Linked DNA regions of Homo sapiens: region 2 is linked to region 1. Evidence: fine-mapped expression QTL. A gene starts in region 1. The other region holds a variant in brackets. All regions are shown on one strand. Distances are between the middles of the regions. Region 1 holds the start of MTFR1L (mitochondrial fission regulator 1 like). Region 2 has its middle 8.0 kb from the start of SELENON.

What was found.
Region 2: its variant is fine-mapped to the expression of MTFR1L in ileum (GTEx, PIP above 0.99).

What each region holds. Positions count from the first base shown.
Region 1 is chr1:25,816,308-25,826,060 of GRCh38, reverse strand. MTFR1L (mitochondrial fission regulator 1 like) reads right to left here and starts at 6,107. Exons shown (of 7, transcript NM_001099625.2): 1 at 6,032-6,107; 2 at 2,933-3,042; 3 at 2,313-2,417. The coding sequence starts at 2,956. It overlaps SELENON (selenoprotein N), which reads right to left. Exons shown (of 12, transcript NM_206926.2): 12 at 7,840-9,753. It overlaps LOC646471 (a long non-coding RNA gene), which reads left to right and starts at 2,455. Exons shown (of 1, transcript NR_024498.1): 1 at 2,455-6,107. RefSeq lists enhancers at 5,312-5,401, 5,782-5,921, 7,564-8,064 and silencers at 5,512-5,681, 6,132-6,321.
Region 2 is chr1:25,786,333-25,797,973 of GRCh38, reverse strand. No RefSeq gene overlaps it. Among named protein-coding and RNA genes, the nearest start is that of SELENON, 8.0 kb to the left of the region's middle. The variant C/T (reference allele first, on the strand shown) is at 6,166.

The DNA of each region.
Region 1 (9,753 bases):
GAGTTTGAGATCAGCCTGGGCAACATGGCAAAACCCTGCCTCTACCAAAAAATACAAAAATTATCTGGGTATGGTGGTATACGCCTGTAGTCCCAGCTATTCAGGAGACTGAGGTGGGAAGATGGCTTGAACCTGGGAGGCAGAGGTTGCAGTGAGCTGAGATTGCACCACTGTACTCTAGCGTGGACAACAGAGCCACATTCAAAAACAAAAACAGGCAAGACACATGAGAGTCTATGGGATTACAAACAGTTCTGTGTCTTCAGTGGAAAAGGCCTGAGTCACCTTTTAGTAGAGATGGCAACTGTCTAAAACCACTGTGCCCTCTGGTGAAAATACAAGTACAAGGTCATCCACAACCTGTTACAGCAATAGGAAATTTTTCCTGACTAGCTTTTTATAATCCTGTATAGCTAATTGAGATCTACATTGTTACAGCAATGCTGTTTTAAACAAACCTGAAAATTTGAATATATTTAGATTTAAATAAAAATAAATGATTATACAAAAGGAACCATAATAGGATTTCTTAAAATAGCTCCTCAACCTAGAGATGTTGAGTAAAGTGAAAAATTAGGATTCAGTCATGTTGACTGTGATTACAACAAAGTAAAAAACATCCATCTAGAAAAAGAGGACTACACTAAGACATTAATAGTTATTGTATTATTACTATGTAATTATAGGTAATTTATTTTCCTTTTACTTTTCATAATTTTAATATTTTCATATGCTTAAATTTTCAAAATAAATTGGTAAGAGTCCCTTAAATAATATTTAAGGTAATTTAATAATAATAATAAATGCATATTTACACACAAGTAAGATTCAACTGTTTCTGCTACAAATTATTTGGTATGGTAGATGGATCCAGGATTGATCGCTCCTGCATTTAGATAGGAAACCTGGGACTCACAGGAGTTAAGTGATACTCCAAGGTCACACAGAGAAGAACTTCCAGTGACCCAGGAACTAGTGCTAAAATAGGGCATTTGGGGGAAGCCTCCATTTGTTTTCCTGATTAGCCCTGAATGCTCCTTTGCTCTTGGCAATTAAATGAGTAAACAAATATAAAGTACAGCACAGTGCCTGACACATAGTATGTGCTCAGTAAATGTTATCTAGTATTACCAATACTGCTCACATACATTCCTGCTCTGTGAGAGCCTGTGCCCTTGATTGTCTCTGCCCAGCATCTGGCCAAAGAACTGAAGAGGGTATAGCCAAGTGTGGGGACGGCCTCTATGCAGTGAGCCACACTCCCTAGCTGTCTCCCTTTTTTTTTTCTGATGCTTCTGAGGCAAGTTAGGACCAGTTCCTGCCCAGGATCTTTAGACAATTCTGGATAGCTGGCAATCTGAATACTGGGACAGCTTTTCCTGCCCCCTACCCCTGCGACACTTCCAACTCCATTCCTGACCCTAATACCAACCCTGACACCTCTTCTAATTCCAGATCCAGTTCCTACAGACTCTGCTTCTTAGCATCTTTTATACAGATTTGGCTCCTTCATTTCTGTTTCTACCTGGGCCCACATCCTTTCATGCACATATTTCTATCTCCTCTGTGTGGGTAGAAAGCACAAGTATTTCTTTTGTATCCCAGCTCTCCAAATGCACACATCTGAACCATATAGTTTGGGGCTGGTGCTTAACCATTTAGTTCCTAGAGGGAGGCAGCTGGGACTAATAAATGCTACTTAGCTTTCTACCACAGAAGGGGTCTCAAGAGACCTGGGCCAGGTAGGAATCTCTGCTGCTGAGTGGGTGCTAAAGGATCCCTAGACACAGAGGTAAGACCAAAGCACCCCAGTAAAGGATGCCCAGATTGGCCAAAAAGAGAAGGCTGAGGAATTATGGCCTCAGAGAAACACTAAAAATAGTGGAGCTGGGCATGGTGGCTTGTGCCTGTAATCCCAGCTACATAGGAGGCTGAGGCAGGAGGACTGCTTGAGCCCAGGAGTTTAAGACCTAGCCTGGGCAACATAGGGAGACCTCATCTCAAAAAATAATAAAATAAAAATACTGGCTACATGGTCAATTCTTAGGGCTGGTGAAGAAAAGCAGAGTTCAACTCAAAAATCACAATAGTCAGTGTCCCATGTGGGGGACCTGTCAGGTTCCTTGTGGTCACAGGTTTGTATGCACTCAGGAGGACACAGTGACCAGGATATCTTATAAGCATTTAACAAATATTTCATAACAGAATGAAAAGTGACCAGGAAACAACCTACTTGGGCAGTACCAAGGGGTTTGGGGCACAGAAGCAGCACTGTCTGAGCCTCTACTCTCCTGCCCTTCCAACATACTCACCTCAAAGGACGCCCGGGCACACGGCTTCAAGGGTAGGTTGGTCCCAATTCTTCTTACTACACTTCGAGCAGCCCCATGTGGCTTGTTTTGCCAGATTGGGATGGTCTGGAGCAAAGAGACGGAGACAGCTACAACCCCAGAGAATGAATCCAACTACTGTCCTTGTCCTCTCCTCTCTAGGTTTGTGGAGACTGAATTCCACAAACCTAGGGACAGGGCACTCTCTAGGGGCAAGTCAACTCTCAATTATAGTGAGGGCAGGTTCCCCAGTTGCCAGCCTACACCCTGGCCAGCCACCCAAGGGAATACCTGCTGCTGCTAAGGCAGTCAATGTTGGGAGGGTCAGGGAAGGGGAGAGGAAGTAGCTGAGTGTAGAGATTATCCAGGCTTTCCTTCCCGTCCTCTGTACAGAAAGGCAGACATACACTGACTCCTGAAGTGCCCCAGGATCATAGTTGGTTCTTCTTAGGGGGAGGGAGTGAAACGGTGGCCTTGCTCCAATTCCAGGCCTCTGGAGAAAGGAGTGCTCAACTGGAGAGTCTCAGAACCTTTTACAGTACTTCAGCAGGCCCAGCACCCAACCTTCCCCACCATACCCCTGCCCTGGGAATGCCCCTTACCACAGTGGCTTCCATTCCTGACATTTGAACCAGCTCCTGCACTTGAAGGACAAGGCAGCCACTGGGCAGCTCCGGGAGGCGGGAGGCGTGACTCCTTCATATCAGGCCATCTGGAGGAGCACCAGATTTCCCTCTTGTGAAACAACCCCCCACAGTGGGGATTTAATGGTCACCACACAAGCCCCAAAAAACCAGGCCCTGCAGAGCCATGACTTCACAGGGGAGAAAACCAGCCCAAGAGGCTGCCCTCACCCAACACTTAGCTCTAAGTCCAGACTCTTAAAGGTTCTGTTAAAGATCTGCGGCCAGGCGCAGTGGCTCACATCTGTAATCCCAGCACTTTGGGAGGCCGAGGTGGGCGGATCACGAGGTCAGGAGAGCGAGACCATCCTGGCTAACACAGTGAAGCCCTGTCTCTACTAAAAATACAAAAAATTAGCCAGGTGTGGTGGCGGGCACCTGTAGTACCAGCTACTTGGGAGGCTGAGGCAGGAGAATGGCGTGAACCCAGGAGGCAGAGCTTGCAGTGAGCCGAGATCACGCCACTGCACTCCAACCTGGGTGACAGAGCGAGACTCCGTCTCAAAAAAAAAAAAAAAAAAAAAAGATTTGCCTAGTGAGCTTGGCCAACCCAAGAGCCTTCCTGGGCTCTCAGGTTTCTTGAGGCAAAACTTCTAAAGATGCAAATAGAATCCTTGGTAGCTACAAAGCTCATCTAGCCAAATTATAAGTACTATCCAAGCCCAGGATTCATTCTTGAAGATGAGATGTAAAAGCACTGCTGGGCCCTTGCAAAGGGAGAGATCAGAGAAAATAGGAGAACGAACACCAGCTCATGCCAATCTCAGTCTCATGAGCTACAGAGAAAAAGAGCCAAAAAAGTTTATCCTGGCTCAGCCACCTTCTGGCTTTGTAGCTACAGGCAAGTTATTTAACTTTTCTGAATGTTGGTTTTTCCATCTGGAAAAAGGAGACAGGAAAAGCTGCCACTGGAGGCTACCTTAAGGGTCAATGAGTGAAATGGGGTTGAGTGCTTAATGAACTGTTAAAACATGACACAGATGGGTGAGGTGACATCTGACTGCTCTTCACAGCAGTCCTTGCATGGTGAGCAGATGCAATCAGTGTGCTCGTTCATTCACTTGTTCATCAAACACCAACAGTACCCACTTGTGCCAGGCCTTGTGCTGGGCACCGTAGGGGCTATGGAAGGAGTAAGACACAGTCATGCTCTCAAGGAACTCGCTGTCCAGCAGAGTGATAGGACATGAATACATACTTCTAGCAAAGGCTGAGTAGCATTAGGCAGGTGGCCAGATGAGGTCAGAGCTCTGGCCCTAGTGCCCTGTAGTAAGTTGCGAGGGAGTAGGAAATGAAGACAAAACAGCAAGAGCACAGGTCCAGCACAAGAAGGTGAAGGACATGGAAAGAGGAGCAGAGCATGATAAAGCTACAAAAGTAGGGGGCAAGTCATGAGGTCCGGGTCACTGGGGAGCCCTGGACAGGCTCTGAATGGGAGATAGACTAGACTGACAAAGCAGCTCTTTCTGGAGACCTCCTGTGGAGGGTCCCCTCTTCTACCCTTGGGAGACGAGGTGTCATTCACTTCACGATACACATGGGGAAAGGAAGTTGGACAGGGGAAGGCACTTGTCTAAGGTCACTCAGTGGTCATGCCAGTGCAAAGCACCCAAAGCCTGGTCCAGGTCCTGCCACCTCCTGCGTGGGCTCCATCTTCTCGGCTCAGTTCAAGCCTTTATTATCAGAGTCCCTCTGTGTGCCAGGCTCTGTGCTGAATGTCCGTGTCGGCCACAAATTGCACTAACGGTGCTTACTGCCACTTCCTCTCCGACCTTACCTCCAAAGACCCAGCCGGGCCTAACCCTCACACACAGCCAGAGGAATCCTTCCCAAACACAGTTAATCACATCGCTCATCCGTTTAAAACTGGCTTACTAGAGCCAACACAGGATAAAATCCACAATCAGTCCCAAACCCATCTTTCTCTGCCGTCTCTAGACCACATTCACTGAGCACCAAGGCCTGCACGCTTCGCAGCCAGCCCTCCTGCTCTCCCCCTTGCCCTCCAGCCACACTGGCCCTCAACCCCCAACACTGGGCCCACCTCTGAGCCCTGCATCAAACACCAGCACCCCCTTCGCCGAGCTCATTCTTCATCATTCCTCAGAGCTCAGCTTAAGCATCACCTTCCTTCCCTGCGACAGGGTCAGGTCCTTTCCTGTGCGCTCCGCAGCACCCTGCCTGTCCCTCGGAGTCCTCGCGAGAGGAACTAGATAACTGTGATCCCCGCGCACAGCACGGTGTCTGCCTAGGACACAGTGAGCGCTTCAACGCGCTGAACTAAACGAATGAAGGGGAACACCAACTCAGCTGTCACCCCCGCCCCCAAGTGTCACTGGCTAGAAGATCTTCCCCCGGTTCGCCGGCAGCACCGGTGGGTCTTGTCACCTCTGCGCCCCGCAGCCCTCCGGAGGCTGCAGTTGCTGTCTGCTGACAGGCGTCCCCTCAGGAGAACGGGAGCTCCTCCAGCGCAGGGCCCTGCTCAGCACCCCTGGTCCCGGGGGCCCCCACGGAGGCCGCCGCGCTCAGTGAAACTTTGCCGCGCGCAGCAGTGGCCGGAGACCCGCGCGGACCCTCTCCCCGCGGGGACCCGCCAGGGCGAGTCGCCCCTCCCCCGCGGCAGACGACCCGACCTGGGCCAAGGTCGGCCAAGTGCTCGCCGCCTGCCCAGCGGCCCTTGGACCCACAGGACCCGGACCCGAGTGCGCGGAAGCCTCCGAGCCGCGGCCAGGTCTCAGAATGCGCGGCGGGGCAGCCCGGCCCGTCAAGCAGCGAAGCCGAAACTAGAAGCCTGAGGTCTGGCTTGGTCACTGTTTGCTGGGGAACTCCGACGAGCAACTACCCTTCGGGGACTCAGTTTCCCCCGGGCCAAGTGAGACGGACAGCTGCGGCTCCCGCGAGAACTCGCGCGGGAACAGGAGCTGCGGGCTCCGCACAGCGCCCGGCACGTAGACCCAGTCTACTAACGGGCTGGAAGGTCGCGCTCCCGCCTCCGCGCCTCCCTAGAACCTTTCTCACCTCAAGCTCGGGCTCCCGGACTCTCTCACCTCACGGCCCCTCCTTCCACCTTGGGCCGCCCAGCCTCAACCGCCCTCACTTCCGCTGACCCGCCCCCCGGAAGCGATCCTCCGCAGCTGCGCACCGAGGCGCACCTCCGCGCACCCTCAGGAGGCGGGTCCAGCTCGGTGGCGAGGGGAGCGCGGCCCCCGAGTGGGCGAGGCGCTGGCGGCTGTAGGCTCCGATACCGCGGAGCACACTCCCCTCCATCGAGACCGTGCCCCCGCGGGGTCTGTGTCCCCGGGAGGAGTTGGCTGCGTTTGGAGATCCCTCGGCCTGGTATTCGTCGCGTCTCCCTGCTTGTTGCTCTCCACGTTTAGCCCCATCCGACTTCTGGAAGCCCAGGGGTGTGTCGCTCGACCCCTAAAATATGCTCCTACCCCTAGGGCAAACTTCAGAATCCTCACCCTGGCCCCCTTCCCAGTTCTTGGTTCCCAGGCAGGTCCCTTTGCAAAGCCTCTCTCCAGCAAGAATGCGCAGAATGGGCCTCTTTCTCCTCTTGACTCCTGCCCTCCAGCACTTTGCAGCTTTCTTCTATTTTAGCCTCTCTCTCTCTCTCTCACACACACACACACACACACACACACACACACACACACACACGGTATATTCAATGAGTTTGCTTATTAGATGGGTACTTGATGTACAAGACTCCAGAGGCTCTGTGGGAAGAGCCACATTCCTTCCAGGCTCACTAACCCACTCCCTCTTTGTGCTCCAGCCCTCACTGTCTTGGTCTGTGGCATGCAGTTCCTGGGTCACATTTCCTTCTCTGCCTTCAGCACAGCCTCGGGCTGTGCCTGGCTCCCAGGCTGGAGTTCCTTGGTTCCAAAGCCTGCAGTCCCCTCTGCCAGAGACAGAGCTGGTTTCATGGGTGAACAGCCCATGCAGTCACAACGGGCCGCATGCTCAGAATCCTGTACTTGGTTTAGTACTTTGCTGTTGCCGTCTTGAAATGATTTTCTAATAGGGGTTCTTGTGTTTTCATTTTGCACGGGGCTGTGCAAATTATGTGACTGGTCCTGGCTAGAGACCTCAGAGGTCGTCCACCCTGATCTCCACCATATCTCAAACGCTGAAGATTGACTTCCAGGTCTGGCCCTCTTCCCAGGATGGCACATTGTGTTTTAATCATTACCTTTCCCTCCTGTGCGATGGCGGATCATGCAAGTCCACGCTGGCTGTCTGTCCTGGGTGTAGATGCTGATTTGGTGTCCCACTCAGATCCCCTTGCAGGAAGAACGGAGCTCCCTACCTGGGAATTTCCTTCACCTCCCAAGCCAATGACTGATAAAAGGTCCAAAAGGCCAGTTCAGCTCTGCAGTGTGGTTTATGCCCCACAGCTCTTCCACTGTGGGTCAGGCCAAGGCTGGGCTGAGACTGTTCCTGCTCAGCATTTTTCCTTTCCCTCTTCTGCTTCCTTCCTTCTTTTACTGGTTTTTCTGGAAGTACACTCCCCCCCAGCCCCACCAAACAAACAAAACAAACAAACAAAAAAACACTTCATGCCTGTCTCAGGCTCTGCTTTTAAGACAATGATTTTAACTCCCAGATCTCTCTCAACAGAGAGCACCAGATTCTCAAAACAGTAAGTCCTACCACTTGTTCTATCGTAAAACTTATTTTGGGCAAGTCACTCAAGCCTTCGATAGGTAAGATAGTACCTGAAAGCATTCCAGCTCAACTCTGCCCCAAGAGGGAGCCACCCCATGGAAGGACGGAGCTGAGCAACATGCCACTCAAAGGAAAAGCACTTAGAACCACTCTAGTTAGTCTTCTCTAATTTTATTACAGGGCATGTTGGGGACAGGGGAGGGAAGTGTTAGAGGAGTGACAGGGCAGCCCGGGGCCCTCTCCCACCCTGAGCCTCGAGGCCTGGTGGGGGACATGAACTGCAGAGGCATCAGATAAGGCCTCAGAAAGCCCAGGCCATCATTTTCCATGGGACCAGGCTGGCTCAATGTGGAACTGGCCCTCCCAGAGCAGCAGGAGAAGGGCTCGCATGGGCTGCCCCCGTCACCTGTGCCTGACAGGATGGGGGGGGAGGCAGAGAGAGAGCATCAGACGCCCTCCCTCCCCATAAGGGGCATGGGGGATGGGGACACTTCCTCCCAGGACACAGGGAGCCTGGCTGAGCTGGCTGGCTCATGCCCCATCTGGTCTGGAGGTCAGAGGGGAGTGAGACACTCTGGTTTGAAAGGCCTTCCTTTCCACTTTGGGGAAAACAGGCAGGGAGAGAGGTGAGGGTGCCATGCCAAAAAACACCCCCAAATCCAGATGCAGACTTTGGAGCCACATGTGGGTTTGAATCTCAACTCTACCTGAGTGACCCTGGGCAAGTCACTTCACTTCCCTGAGACTCAAGTTTCATCAAGATGGGAACAATGAGCATCTGCCTCACAGGCTTGTCGTGAGGATTAAGTGAGAAGGTGCGTGTAATATTAGCGATGACTGGATGATACAAAATTAAGAACAAGGCTGGGCACGATTGCTCACGCCTGTAATCCCAGCACTTTGGGAGGCTGAGGCAGGTGGATCACCTGAGGTCAGAAGTTCCAGATCAGCCTGACCAATATGGTGAAACCCCATCTCTACTAAAAATACAAAAATTAGCCAGCCATGGTGGCATGCACCTGTAATCCCAGCTACTCGGGAGGCTGAGGCAAGAGAATTGCTTGAACCTGGGAGGTGGAGGTTGCAGTGAGCCAAGATCGAGCCATAGCACTCCAGCCTGGGTGACAGAGCAAGACTCCGTCTCAAAACAAAACAAAACAAAATTGAGAACAAGACTGGCTGGGGAAGGCTCAGTGGACACGCCCAAGGCAAGTGGGGTAACTCGGCACATAAAAGGCCCAGGAGTGGCTGCGGAGATGTCTGCCTTCCTTCTTCCTCTGCCAGGCTGAGTGAGCCCCGGGTGGGGTGAGGGGGTGGGGAGAGAACTGGGGGCTGGGGAGGGGGCAGCCTGACTTCAAGACCTTAATGAAAGAGAGTACAGGCATGCCTGTGGGCCTTTGTGGAGGATGGGACAGTGCTGGGGATCATGGATCCTCTGAGGACTGTTTTTAAAAAGCTGAAGAGGAGAAGGAAGAGAGGACTACTTCTTCCCATAGGTGCAGCTGCAAAGACATCAAGCTGGACCCATCGAGGATTTCGGATTCAGCCATCATGGGGCTGCTGCCGGGGAAGCCACTGCCCCTCCTTTCTCCTCAGCACTGGGGTTATAAAAAAATACCTACAAACCATGAGAAAGTTTGTGTAAAAACACTTTTCTGCACATATAAAAAGAGAGACTGGCCGTGGTCAGTGGCTCAGGACGTGGACCAAAGTCCCAAGAGTGGCCAAGGGGAGTCCGTGGTGCCCCAGAGGTAGAAGAGCTAGCCTGGGGCACCCCTGGTTGCCGGGACAGTGCCGGCTCTGGAGAAGGCTGTGGTGTTTGGCTGGGTTGTGCTTCTGTGGATGCAAGGTCTGAGGGGCAAGAGGGGCGGCAGGAGCGCTGGCTCCCGCAGTCCTGCAGAGACCCTGTGCTAAGGTAGGCGGTGGGAGTGCCTTGGCCCTGGGCCTCGGGAACCCCCTTAGTGAACCCCATTGCTAAAGGCAGAAACCCCTTCACAGTAAACTTCCCCAGATAGCTGGTCAGTGGCGTGGTCAGGGAAGCTGCAGGGGGTCCCGTCTGATTTCCACTC
Region 2 (11,641 bases), 29 kb after region 1:
TGAGGGTCTCGGAGGTTAGTGGGCACTCGCTCATTCATCCTTCCAACACATGTATTGAAGGGCTACTATGCCGTGTCCTGGCGATTGGGTGTCCATCAGAAAACAAAACAGTCTCTGCTCTTCCAGATGAGTCAATGGATACTGCAACCCTCCTCTCGAGGGGTAAGTGCTCTGAGAGGGGTGTGCACAGAGGAGGGTCCCCCTGACTATCAGGAGGGCTCAGAAGAGGCTTCCCAGAGCAGAGGTCTGGCCAGACCTTGACTTCAGGAGCTCACCAGGCATAGCACCCAGGAAGATCATTCCAGAGGGTGGGAACAGCAGAGGTGAAGGCCCAGTGATGTGAAACTCGATGGAGTATCCGTAGCGTCTCGAGAATATAGTCCAGTGGATTTGAGCAGAGGGACCCGGGGGGGAAGTGTGAAGAGGGAGGAGGAGGAGGCAGGAAGGTTGGGCTGGCACGCTGGCCAGCTTGTGAAAAGCCTGGACTTTACCACTGAGACAATGTGGAGGCATCAGAAGAGAGGGACATTCAGCCACTGCAGCACCCTTCAGACTCCCTACTGGGTCCCAGCTTCTGCCTGGGGGCACCCACACCCACCTCCCTGCGCAGAGGGTGTTGGTGTAAGCACTCCAGGCCACTCCATCCACCCATGAGAAGAGGAGGGAGCCTGACCTGCCTGCAGCCACATTTAAGTAGGGGCAGGGTCACTGCCTCGAATCCTGGTGTCTCTCTCTCTCTCCTACACACACACACACCCCTGATGTGTGTGTGTCTCTCTCTCTTTCTCTCTCCTACACACACACACACACGCGCGCACACACACGCGCGCACACACACACGCACACGCGCGCGCGCGCACACACACACACACACACATCCCTGCCTGCCTCCTAGTAGCATCCTCTCTTCTGCTTCCTGTCTCTTTGGGGTAAACTCACCAGGAAAGGCCTTCTTCCCGCAGGGGGCGCTGCTGCCCTCCAGGGAATCAAATCAAATTAGGATTTTCCATTCCAGTTTCACCGGCGACAGTGAGCCAGGAAGAGGGCCATTTGGCTTTGTTTTTTGTGTTTCTTCTCTTCATCTGGGACCCTAGAGAGGCAAGTGATTTTCCCCAAACCCAACCCTAACATCTTGGCAGCCAATAATAGGACCAACATTTGAGAACAAAGGATCACTTGGGGGAAACAGGTGCCACTGCAGGAGTTGCTTAAGCATGCCCGGACCACGTGGGCCTCTCCGCAAACTAAATACCTGCTGTGTGCCAGGGACTGTTCTCAGCCCTGGGAACACAGTATTATAGAAGACGGGCAAGGCACTTCCTCTGTGGGGGCTGAATATTCTACTCGGAGGAAGGAAATGACAGACACACAAGGTAATTTCAGAGAAAGGTAAGTGTGAAGGAGTGAGACAGGGCACTGTGGCACAGTGCCACAGGCAGGCATCAGCACCGTAGCTGGGAGGTGACACATACACTGCGCCTGGAACGGGAAGAAGCAGCCAGCTATGAGAAGAATCGAGGAAGGAGCGTCCCAGGCACGGAGAAGAGGGGAGAGCCGGTGCAAAGGCCTGGGGTGGAAACAAGCTTGGTATGTCCAGGAGACACACAGAAGGCAGAGTGAGTTATGGGAAGAGAAAAGCTTGGTGACAGAGGCTGGGACAGGACGTCGGAATCTTGCAGGCCTCGGCAACAAACTTCATTCAATTTATTTATTGAGACAGGGTCTCACTCTGTCCCCCAGGCTGCAGTGCAGTGGCACGATCTCAGTTCACTGCAACGTTGAACTCCTGGGCTCAAAGCATCCTTCCACCCCAGACTATCAAGTAGCTGGGACCACAGGTGTGAGTCACGGCACTTGGTCAAACTTCATTCTAGATATGATGTGAAACCATTATAAGGTGTTAAGCAGGGTGGTGACAATGTGTGACTTGGTTTTTTGTTAGTTTGTTTGTTTTTGAGATGGAATCTTGCTCTTGTCGCTCAGGCTGGAGTGTAGTGGCGCGATCTAGGCTCACTGAAACCTCCGCCTCCCGGATTCAAGCAATTCTCCTGCCTCAGCCTCCAGAGTAGCTGGGATTACAGGTGCCGGCCACCGAGCCTGGCTACTTTTTGTATTTTTAGTAGAGACAGGGTTTCACCATATTGGCCAAGCTGGGCTCAAACTCCTGACCTCAAGTGATCCGCCTACCTCGGCCTCCCAAAGTGCTGGGATTACAGGAGTGAGCCACCGCACTCGGCTGGTGACTTGTTTTTTAAAAGACCTTTCTCATAGCCCAGATGCAGAAACAACCCAAATTTCCAGCAATGAATGGATAAACAATGCGGTGTATCCATTTGATAAGTATTAGTGGGCAATAATAAACCTTAGCAACTTTAAGCTGGGTGGAAAAAGCCAAACACAAAGACCACGGCTTGTGTGATTCATTCAGTGAAATGTCCAGAATCCACAGATCCAGAGAGACAGAAACTAAATTAGCAGTTGCCTGGGGCTATAGTGGGAGACCGGGAGGAGGGGGCTGGGGAGTAACTGCTAATGGGTACAAAGTTTCTTCTGGGGTGATAAAATGTTCTAAAATTAGATTATAATGATGCTTGCACAATTCTGTGATATACTAAAAAAACATGAATTGTCCATCTTTGAAGTGGGTGGATTTTATGGCATGTAAATGATATCCCAGTAAAGCCTCTTGGTTTTGATGTTTGTTTAAAGATCTTTCTGGTTTCTGGGTAGAGAATAGAGTTAGGGGATGGACAGAGGAAGGAGGGAGACAGGAGGCTAATGCAGTCGCCCAGACATAAGATGGCAGGGATTGGGCAGGCGTGGACAAGATATATGAGTGTAGCAGAGCCACAGACAGGATTTGCGGATGGGTCAGAAGTGGACGGCAAGAGGAAAGACCAGCATCAGCCATGGGTTGAGCTTGGGTAGCTGGTGGCACCATCCTGAGATGAGGCACCCTGGAGGGACCCCGGCTGGGGAGAAGGCTTGGTCCAGTCTGCCAGGTTAAGATGCCTGAGAGCTGGCTGGGCGTGGTGGCTCACGCCTATAATCCCAGCACTTTGGGATGCTGGGGTGGGCGGATCATGAGGTCAGGAGGTCGAGACCATCCTGGCCAACATGGTGAAACCCCATCTTTACTAAAAATACAAAAAATTAGCTGGGCGTGGTGGCGCACGCCTGTAGTCCCAGCTACTCGGGAGGCTGAGGCAGGAGAATCGCTTGAACCTGGAAGGCTGAGGTTGCAGTGAGCCAAGATCACACCACTGCACTCCAGCCTGGTGATAGAGGGAGACTCCAGCTCAAAAAAAAAAAAAAAGATGCCTGAGAGTCACCCTCACGGAGGTGTCAAGGAGGCAGTTGTGTGTGTATGACTATGGGGCTATGAACGGTAGGGAAGGGGGGCGTGGATTATAAATCTGGGAGTTGCCAGTCTAAAAATGGCACTTAAAGCCACAAGATTCAATGAGATCATTGAAGAGAGAGAAGAGAAGCCGCCTTTGGCCTATGTGGCCACAGATGCCGCCGTGTCTTGGAATGTTGAGTGGCTTTGGCTGGATTTACAGGCATGGAGCTGTGGCTGTGATTAGCCAAAAAATAGATTAACGTTAGAGGTCATGACAGGCTTGGCTTGGCTCTCGTACTGTCCAGGCTGGGAGAGAGATTTGTTTCCCGGGGTCAGTAAATGCCCCCGGGACTTTGCCAGATGGACAGATTTAGTCTCAGCATCACGAGTGCAGAGGTCCTGGTTACCCAGCCTGGCTGCCCACTAGTCACCTGGGGCCTTTGAAGGAGACCAATGCTTGGGGCCAACCCCCAGTTGGTTGGGGGAAAGAGGGACATTTTTACCAGCTCTCCAGTGATTTTGAGGGAGAAAATGTAAAGACGGCCAAGTTCCACACACAAGCCACAAAAAAGAGTTTGACATTCGGGGCCTTTCCAACGGTGAGTGTCAGGCACAGGCAGATGGTACCGGATGATCTGGCCTGAATTCTGTTCCACTTGTCTTGTGTGTTTTGAACTGGGTCCAGGGCCAAGGAGGGAACCGTGCTGGGGGGTCAGCCACCCTGGTCTGCTCAGGACTGACACTGATGGAGCACCGAGGATGTGGGATATTCGGTCCTACAAGCAAGAAAGCCCTAACTGGGATGAGCTAGTCACCCAAACAAGGGAGAGGCATAGCTCAGCTTGCATCTGAGAGGCTTTATTTCATCATCTCTGATCTTGGTTGTGCACTTCAGAGGTTTTTTTTTTTTTTACCACAAATGGGTACAAGAGGGCTTCATAATGACCAGACAAGAAAGTGTGAGCATCCTTATTAGACAGGAGCTAAGTGGTTATAAGTTGTATCATATAAATTAAGACAGAAAATGCAGAGGATTTTTTTTTTTTTTTGAGACAAGGTCTCACTGTCACCCTGGCTGGAGTACAGTGGTGCAACTTCAGCTCACTGCAATCTCTGCCTCCCAGGCTCAACTGATCCTCTTACCTCTGCCTCCTGGGCTCAAGAGAGCCTCCCACCTCAGCCTCCCGAGTAGCTGGGATTACAGGCGCCTGCCACCACACCCGGCTAATTTTTGTATGTTTAGTAGAGATGGGGTTTCACCATGTTGGCCAGGCTGGTCTCTAACTCCTGACCTCAGGTGATCCGCCCACCTCGGCCTCCGAAAGTGCTGGGATTATGGTTGTGAGCCACTATACCCAGCCTATTTTATTTTGAGATGGGGTCTCACTCTGTTGCCCTGGCTGCAGTGCTATGGCATGATCATAGCTCACTGCAGCCTTGAACTCCTGGCCTCAAGCCAGCCTCCCGCCTTGACCTCCCAAAGTGCTGGGATTACAGGTGTGAGCCACTATACCCAGCCTCAGTGGAATGTTTATAATGCAAAAAACCATGAAAAGAATGAAATGTCTGTGCCTGAAATTAGGTGATGGTGAAAGAGGTCCACATAGGGTTTGCTCTGGGGATGGCAGGTATTGACTAGAAGCAGCACATGCAAGCCTTCTGGGTGCTGGAATAGTCTTGATCTTGACTGGGGAGGTGGTCATATGAGCGTGCATATAGGTCAACATTCCTTGAGCTGGTCATTTAAGAATAGTGCGTTTTAGGCTGGGTGCAATGGCTCACGCCTGTAATCCCGACACTTTGGGAGGCTGAGGCGGGTGGATCACCTGAGGTCAGGAGTTCAAGAACAACCTGGCTAACATGGTGAAACCCCGTTTCTACCAAAAATACAAAAATTAGCCGGGTGTGGTCCTGTAGTCCCAGCTACTCGGGAGGCTGAAGCATGAGAATCGCTTAAACCTGGGAGGCGGAATTTGCAGTGAGCTGAGATTGCGCCATTGCACGCCAGCCTGGGCGACAGAGTGACATCGTGTCTCAAAAAAAAAAAAAAAAAAAAAAGAATAGTGCATTTTACACATTACTGTATCTACATTATATCTCAAAAAAAATTTTTTTTTAAAGTTTCACTTAAAAACTCAAGGAGAAATAGGACTGGTTTAAAACACTAGAGCCACGGAAAATTAAAGCACAACAAAGGCTTAACACCGGAGCCATGGAAAACAGTAGTATTTTATTTTATTATTTTATTTTATATTTTATTTTATTTGAGACAGGGTCTCACTCTGTTGCCCAGGCTGGGCTTGCTAGGGCACAGTCATAGCTCACTGCAGCCTTGGACTCCTGGCCTCAAGTGAACTGCCTTGAAACACCGGTTTGAAACACTGGAGCTTTGGAAAATTACAGCATGATGAAGGCAGACATGCTGACTGGGCTGGAGGAAAGGAGTGATTTCTCAGGAGACAGCTGGGACACGTGGACACAGATGAAAGGGAAGAGGAGGCAGATAGTTCCTGACTGCTCCAAAGATAGGCTAAGGGGATCGGGAGATATTAGGGATCCAAATGGCTCCATGACCCCTGGGAGGACCTTGAGAGCTATAGTTGGTGGCACCAGTCAAGGCTGTGGGGTGGTCCCTTGGTGATCAGGTGAGCTGTGGACAGGGAAGGTGTCCAGACCACATGGTGATCATAGGTGGGGAACCGTGTGGAGTCAGGACCCTTCAGGAAGCACACGGAGAATGACACAGCAGAAGGTGACCCAGCCAGGCAGACTTAGTTAGAACCTGGGCAGGTGCGGAGCACTCAGTGTCCTGCTTGGAATTA[C/T]CCATGGAGGAGGGGTGAAGGTAGACAATGTTATGTTTCAGCAATATGTGCTTTTGAGAGACCCAGAACTCCCTGACTTCATACCTGCCACAAATCCTGAAGGTTTCAAAGAAGAATGAAAAGAAGGCCCCAGGCCCCACAAACAGCCTCCGTTGGCGCATGTGCGAGAGAAGGAGCCGGGCCACCTTGGGAAGCAGCTTCCATTTTTTAAAAGCGCAGCTGGGCCCGCTTGAAAGGAGTGGTAGAAACAGAGGGGGCAGCAGCCTGGAGGCTTGATCCACGGCTACAGGGAAGAAGGGTCAGAGGAAAGGTTTCTGGTGCCCTTGAAGTCTCCCAGGCTCCTCAAAACCCAGGGAGTAAAAAAGCAGAGGAGAGGTCATGCACACAGGGCAGAGGGCACTCGGGCCTCGCGGCACTCCTGGGGCACAGGCTTCAGAAGCTTCCGCTTAGGAATCTGAGAATGGTTTTCCACTGAGACAGATGTGAGAGGAAAAAGAATTCCTAGGTCTCTCCACTCAGAAGTCGGAGGAAACTTTCAGAAATGTAAAGTGGGTCATCTCATGTGCTGCTTTAAACTCTTCCTAGCTTCTTGCTGCTCTCAGATTAAAATTAAACTCTGTCTTAGTCCATTTTATGTCGCTATAACAGAAAACCACATACTGGATAATTTATAAAGAAAGGAATGTATTTCTAGAGGCTGGGAAATCCAAGGTTGGGGGCCTGCATCTGGCAAGGGCCTTCGTGCTGCGTCCACTTGTGGCCAGAGGCAGAAGGGCAGAAGAGTGCCAGAGAGCAAGCAAGCAAGCAAGCAAGCAAGCGAGGGCTGAATCGGCTTTCAGAACAACCCACGTTAATGCATTCACAAGGGCAGAGCCCTCATGGTCTAATTACCTCTTAACAAGCCAGGTTCCACTTCTTAACACCATCCAAAGGCAATTGCATTTCGACATGAGTTTTGGAGGGGACATTCAAACCACAGCAAGTACTTACCTGCCCACCAGGCACTGAGGGATGGAACCCCTTCTGCCGACTTCCTTTGACCCCCCAGACCCTCCCACTCGCTTACTGCCTTTCTGTGTCTCAGATGCAACAACACTTCCTGCCTCTGAGCCTTTGCATTCACTGTTCCCTCTGCCTGGAATGCTCTTTGCACAGCCTGTCACAAATGTCAGCTCCCCAGGGGCCATCCCTGACCTCTCCATCTCTAGTGATCTCCGTGCGAACTCAATTCCTGGAGAAGGTGGTCCATGCAGGTCCTAAGACCTGGGAAAGCCACAGTTGAAATTTTGTAACTTGTGCAAGACGATGGAATTATCCCTGAAGGTCTCTCTCTTTGAGAAGTGGCCCAGAGGGGTATGGCGCTGGCCCACATCTTCTCCGTTCTCTGCTGTTTACACTCTGTCCTTGCTCTGGTCCCTGGATGGCGAGGACATCGTGGATCTGGGTTATCTGGGTTCTGGGAGCATGATTTTGCTAGGATAACTGCCAGAGGAAAAGGAGTGTGCTGGTATTTTCTAACCTCGGGCAGCTGCTGGGAATCTCATCTCTATTGAGTCAGACTTTGGAAGAGCAGATGCTCCAGAAATTTGGGCTAGGGTTAATTCAACAGTGGAGAAGGTGAAAGTACGACATCAGCAATGTAGGAGTTGACCCAGGAGGTGGCTAGGGCTGCAGAGCCTGACCCTGGAGCAAGCCTGTTAGGGCCTCAGTTCCCTCCTCTATAAATGGGGGTGCCATCTTTTCCTGCCCATCTCCCTTCCAAAGTTTTGTAGACAGGATTTATCAGGTACTCCATGAAGAGGAAACACTAATTGGACCTCAAACATTCCTGGGCAAGCTCTCGGCATCTTCCTCAGCCCTGGGCCCCTGCCCGAGCATCCCCCACCACCAGACGGGTCCCTGGAAGACCTTGGACAGTCAACAAATCTTCATCCCAGTTTCCCAATTTCTGTAGATTCAGGGCTAGCTAATGGCAAAATGCTTCCTCAATGGGAAAAGCAGAAAACGTTCAGATTTATTGCTTTGAGATTTTGGTCTGTCTCCTGGGCCTGGTTGATGCGGTTTCCCCCAAGTTTCAGAGCATTTTGTTTAAAAAGAAGAATTTTTGACAGCAGTGTTTTGCCTCACATTTACACAAGGTTTTATAGTTTACAAAGAGGTTCACATCATAACAATCACTGCTAGGATGCACTGAGTTCTTACAAGGGGTGGGGTGGGGAGGCTCGATTAACCCTTGAAAGCACTTTCCTTTTCCATGGATGGAAAAGCAGAGGCTCAGAGGAGCTTAACTAAGGGGCTTGCCCAAGGCCACACAGTCCTGGAAAAGGGCAGGGCAGAGCTGAACACAGGTCCACCAGTTTCAAATGTTGTGCTTGTATGAAACCGACATGGGTTGTCCTCTCCTGTCGCACCCCTCTGCCTCTCTTGCCTTCAGCCTACCCACTGCATGCCCTGCTGCAGACAGTGAGTAAGAAAACACAAAACAAAACAAAACCAAACTCAGAGGCTTGTGCAGAAAACAGGCTGGGATGAGTATAAAAATAACCAGGTATGTTCAAGGGAATCCTTGAGTCCCTAAACAATGTATTTTCTGCTAACATGATTTATGTAGTGGTGCAGGTGATGGAGGTCTTTGCAGCACCAACAGGGTAGTTGCTTTCTGAGTTCTAATTCTGCACTGTCCAAAACAGCAGCCAGCAGCAATGCATAGCTCTTTAAATTTAATTAAAATGAAATGAAATTGGCCAGGCGCGGTGGCTCACGCCTGTAATCCCAGCACTTTGGGAGGCTGAGACGGGTAAATCACAAGGTCAGGAGTTCAAGACCAGCCTGGCCAAGATGCTGAAACCCTGTCTCTACTAAAAATACAAAAATTAGCCTGGAGTGGTGGCATGCACCTGTAATCCCAGCTACTTGGAAGGCTGAGGCAGGAGAATTGCTTGAACCCGGGTGCCAGAGGTTGCAGTGAGCCGAGATCAAGCCACTGCACTCCAGCCTGGGCGACAGAGCAAGACTTCGTCTCAAAAAAAAAAAAAAAAATTAGCTGGGTGTGGTGGCGCACGCCTATAGTCCCAGCTACTCGGGAGGCTGAGGCAGGAGAATTGCTTGAACTCAGGAGGCAGAGGTTGCAGTGAGCCGAGATCGCGCCACTGCACTCCAGCCTGGTGACAGAACGAGACTCTGGTCAATTAAAAAAAAAAAAAAGGAAATAAAATTAAAAGTTTAGTTCCTCCATTGCACTTGCCACATTTTAAGTATTCCAGATCCACATGGGGTGACCCTATTGGACGCCACTGTTCTAAGCCACCAGCAGCCTGCTCCTGTCTTATCCTGGCTGTCCTGAAGAATGGAGAGCTGTTGACATAGGTGGCAGGCACACACCTGTTTTAAGGTAGGTCGCTTTGCAGTCAAGGTATCTATAGATGCTATCCTAATACCTGAGCCCCTCTACTCCACTCTGGAGCAGTTACAGCTCCAGGGATGCAAATAAAAGGCAGAAACCAAGGCAGTGGCCACCAACTGGGGTCTTGCTACTCAAAGTGTGGTCCAAGGACTGGCAGCATCAGCATCTCCCGGGAGCTTGTTAGAGAAAAGCAGAATCTGGCTGGGCACAGTGGCTCATGCCTGCCATCCTAGCACTTTGGAAAGCTGAGGCGGAAGGATAGCCTGAGCCCAGGATTCTGAGACCAACCTGAGAAATGTAGCGACAAAAAAAAAATTAGCTGGATGTGGCGGCACACCTGTAGTTTCAGCTATTCAGGAGGCTAGGTGGAAGGACTGCTTGAGCCCTGCAGATGGAGGTTGCAGTGAGCTATGATGGCCCCACTGAACTCCAGCCTGGGTGACAGAATAAGACCCTGTGTCAGGAAAAAAAAAAAAAAAGGCAGAATCTCAGGCTCCATGCCAGAGCCGCTGAACATGAACCTGGATTTTAACAAGCTCCCAGGTGATTCCTGTGCACGTTTGAGAAGCTCTGACTTAAGAGACAGGCTGAGCAGGAACAAAACAGTGCTCCAAATATAGGAAACCAAACTGATATTTTCAGATACAAAAAATAGAATCAGCCCCCTTCCTCCAGTAGGGTGTAATTAAGCATTAGTCACAGAGGGCCGAGCATCTTTGTGCCACATGACCAATGACCATACTTCCAAGGACAGGCCCCCAGGGGAAACGCTGGGGGAAGCTGGCCCATTCATCTCTAGCACTTTCTCAAACCACAGTGGGGTCACCTCCTCAAAGCAGAGGGAACGGAACTGAGCATCCATCTTGGATGCTGCCTTTAAATCAGATTTTCCATTTTTGCTTTTCTTCCCAATGCATTTGGCTGGTCTGACCAAATAGCCAGTCATTTAAAGGGAGGCACCTAGAAAAGGACTGTGCCCTGCTCGTCCCCCTTCCCGGGGCCTTGAGGCTCTGCAGACCTCAGTGCCAGGAGCTGGGTGTTGATGAAGCTTTCTGGGAAGGAGCTGACATCACACCCTTCTATGAGGGAAGCAGGTGCAAATGGTGCTTCCATCCTCAGCGAGGGCGCAGATGAGGCTTAAAATGAGCTTGGCAGCCACAGGCTGACCCCCAGCTGGGGAAGGAGAGGGCTGCTTCAGGGAGAGGTTTGGGTGTTCAGATTCTGTGGCTTGCAAAGCTCTCTCCTACCTTCAGTGAGAGGTTTGGGTGTTCAGATTCTGTGGCTTGCAAAGCTCTCTCCTACCTTCAGTGAGGATGAGTCATCCCTTAATTCCTCTCTCCTCTCGGCCTGTCTTGAGTCGTACTTATTTTTATCCGTGGAATGGAGTTAAGTTGCCAAAAGGATGATATTTCTCCACCTGCAAGGGCCCTCCTGGAGGATACATTTTAAAATATTCATTTTTACAATTTCCTCCCAGCAATACAGCAGAGGACAGGAGAGGAGAGGTAGACAGCCGCACGGGCCTGGCGGGGGAGCCTGGGGCTTGGGGAACTGCAAAGTGGCTTTGAGACAGAGAGACATTCTAGAAGTTATTCTGAGGACATAATTGGACAAAAGTGAAAAGGAGGATGGTTAAGTATGCTCTTCATAACTCTCTGTATAATACTGAAGAAATCAAAGCTAACTGTAAACAGTCCTGCTGTTTTTGCCTGTGCAGCCTGCAGATCCCTTATTTTGGTGATGAATCTCATGTTTTTCTCTAGGGAACAGCCCAACACCCATTGCACAGGGTAATCTTAGGGGGTCTGCCAAGCCAAGATGCCTGGCTCTGCCCTTGGCTGGGGCGGGCATGTGACCCAGGCCAGGCCACATGGAAAGGAGCCACAGCAGGATCTGGAAACATTTGGATTCAGCCCTCCTGATGGTGGTGCCTAGAGAGGCTTCCCTGGTTCTTGAAGGGGTCCCTGGCCAAGTCCTCTTTCTAGCCCTTATTGAGGTTTGGCTGTTTACTCCTTCCTGAGATTCCATAAGCCACCCCATGGCATTTCAGTAAATCCCTTTCTGTGCTTAAGT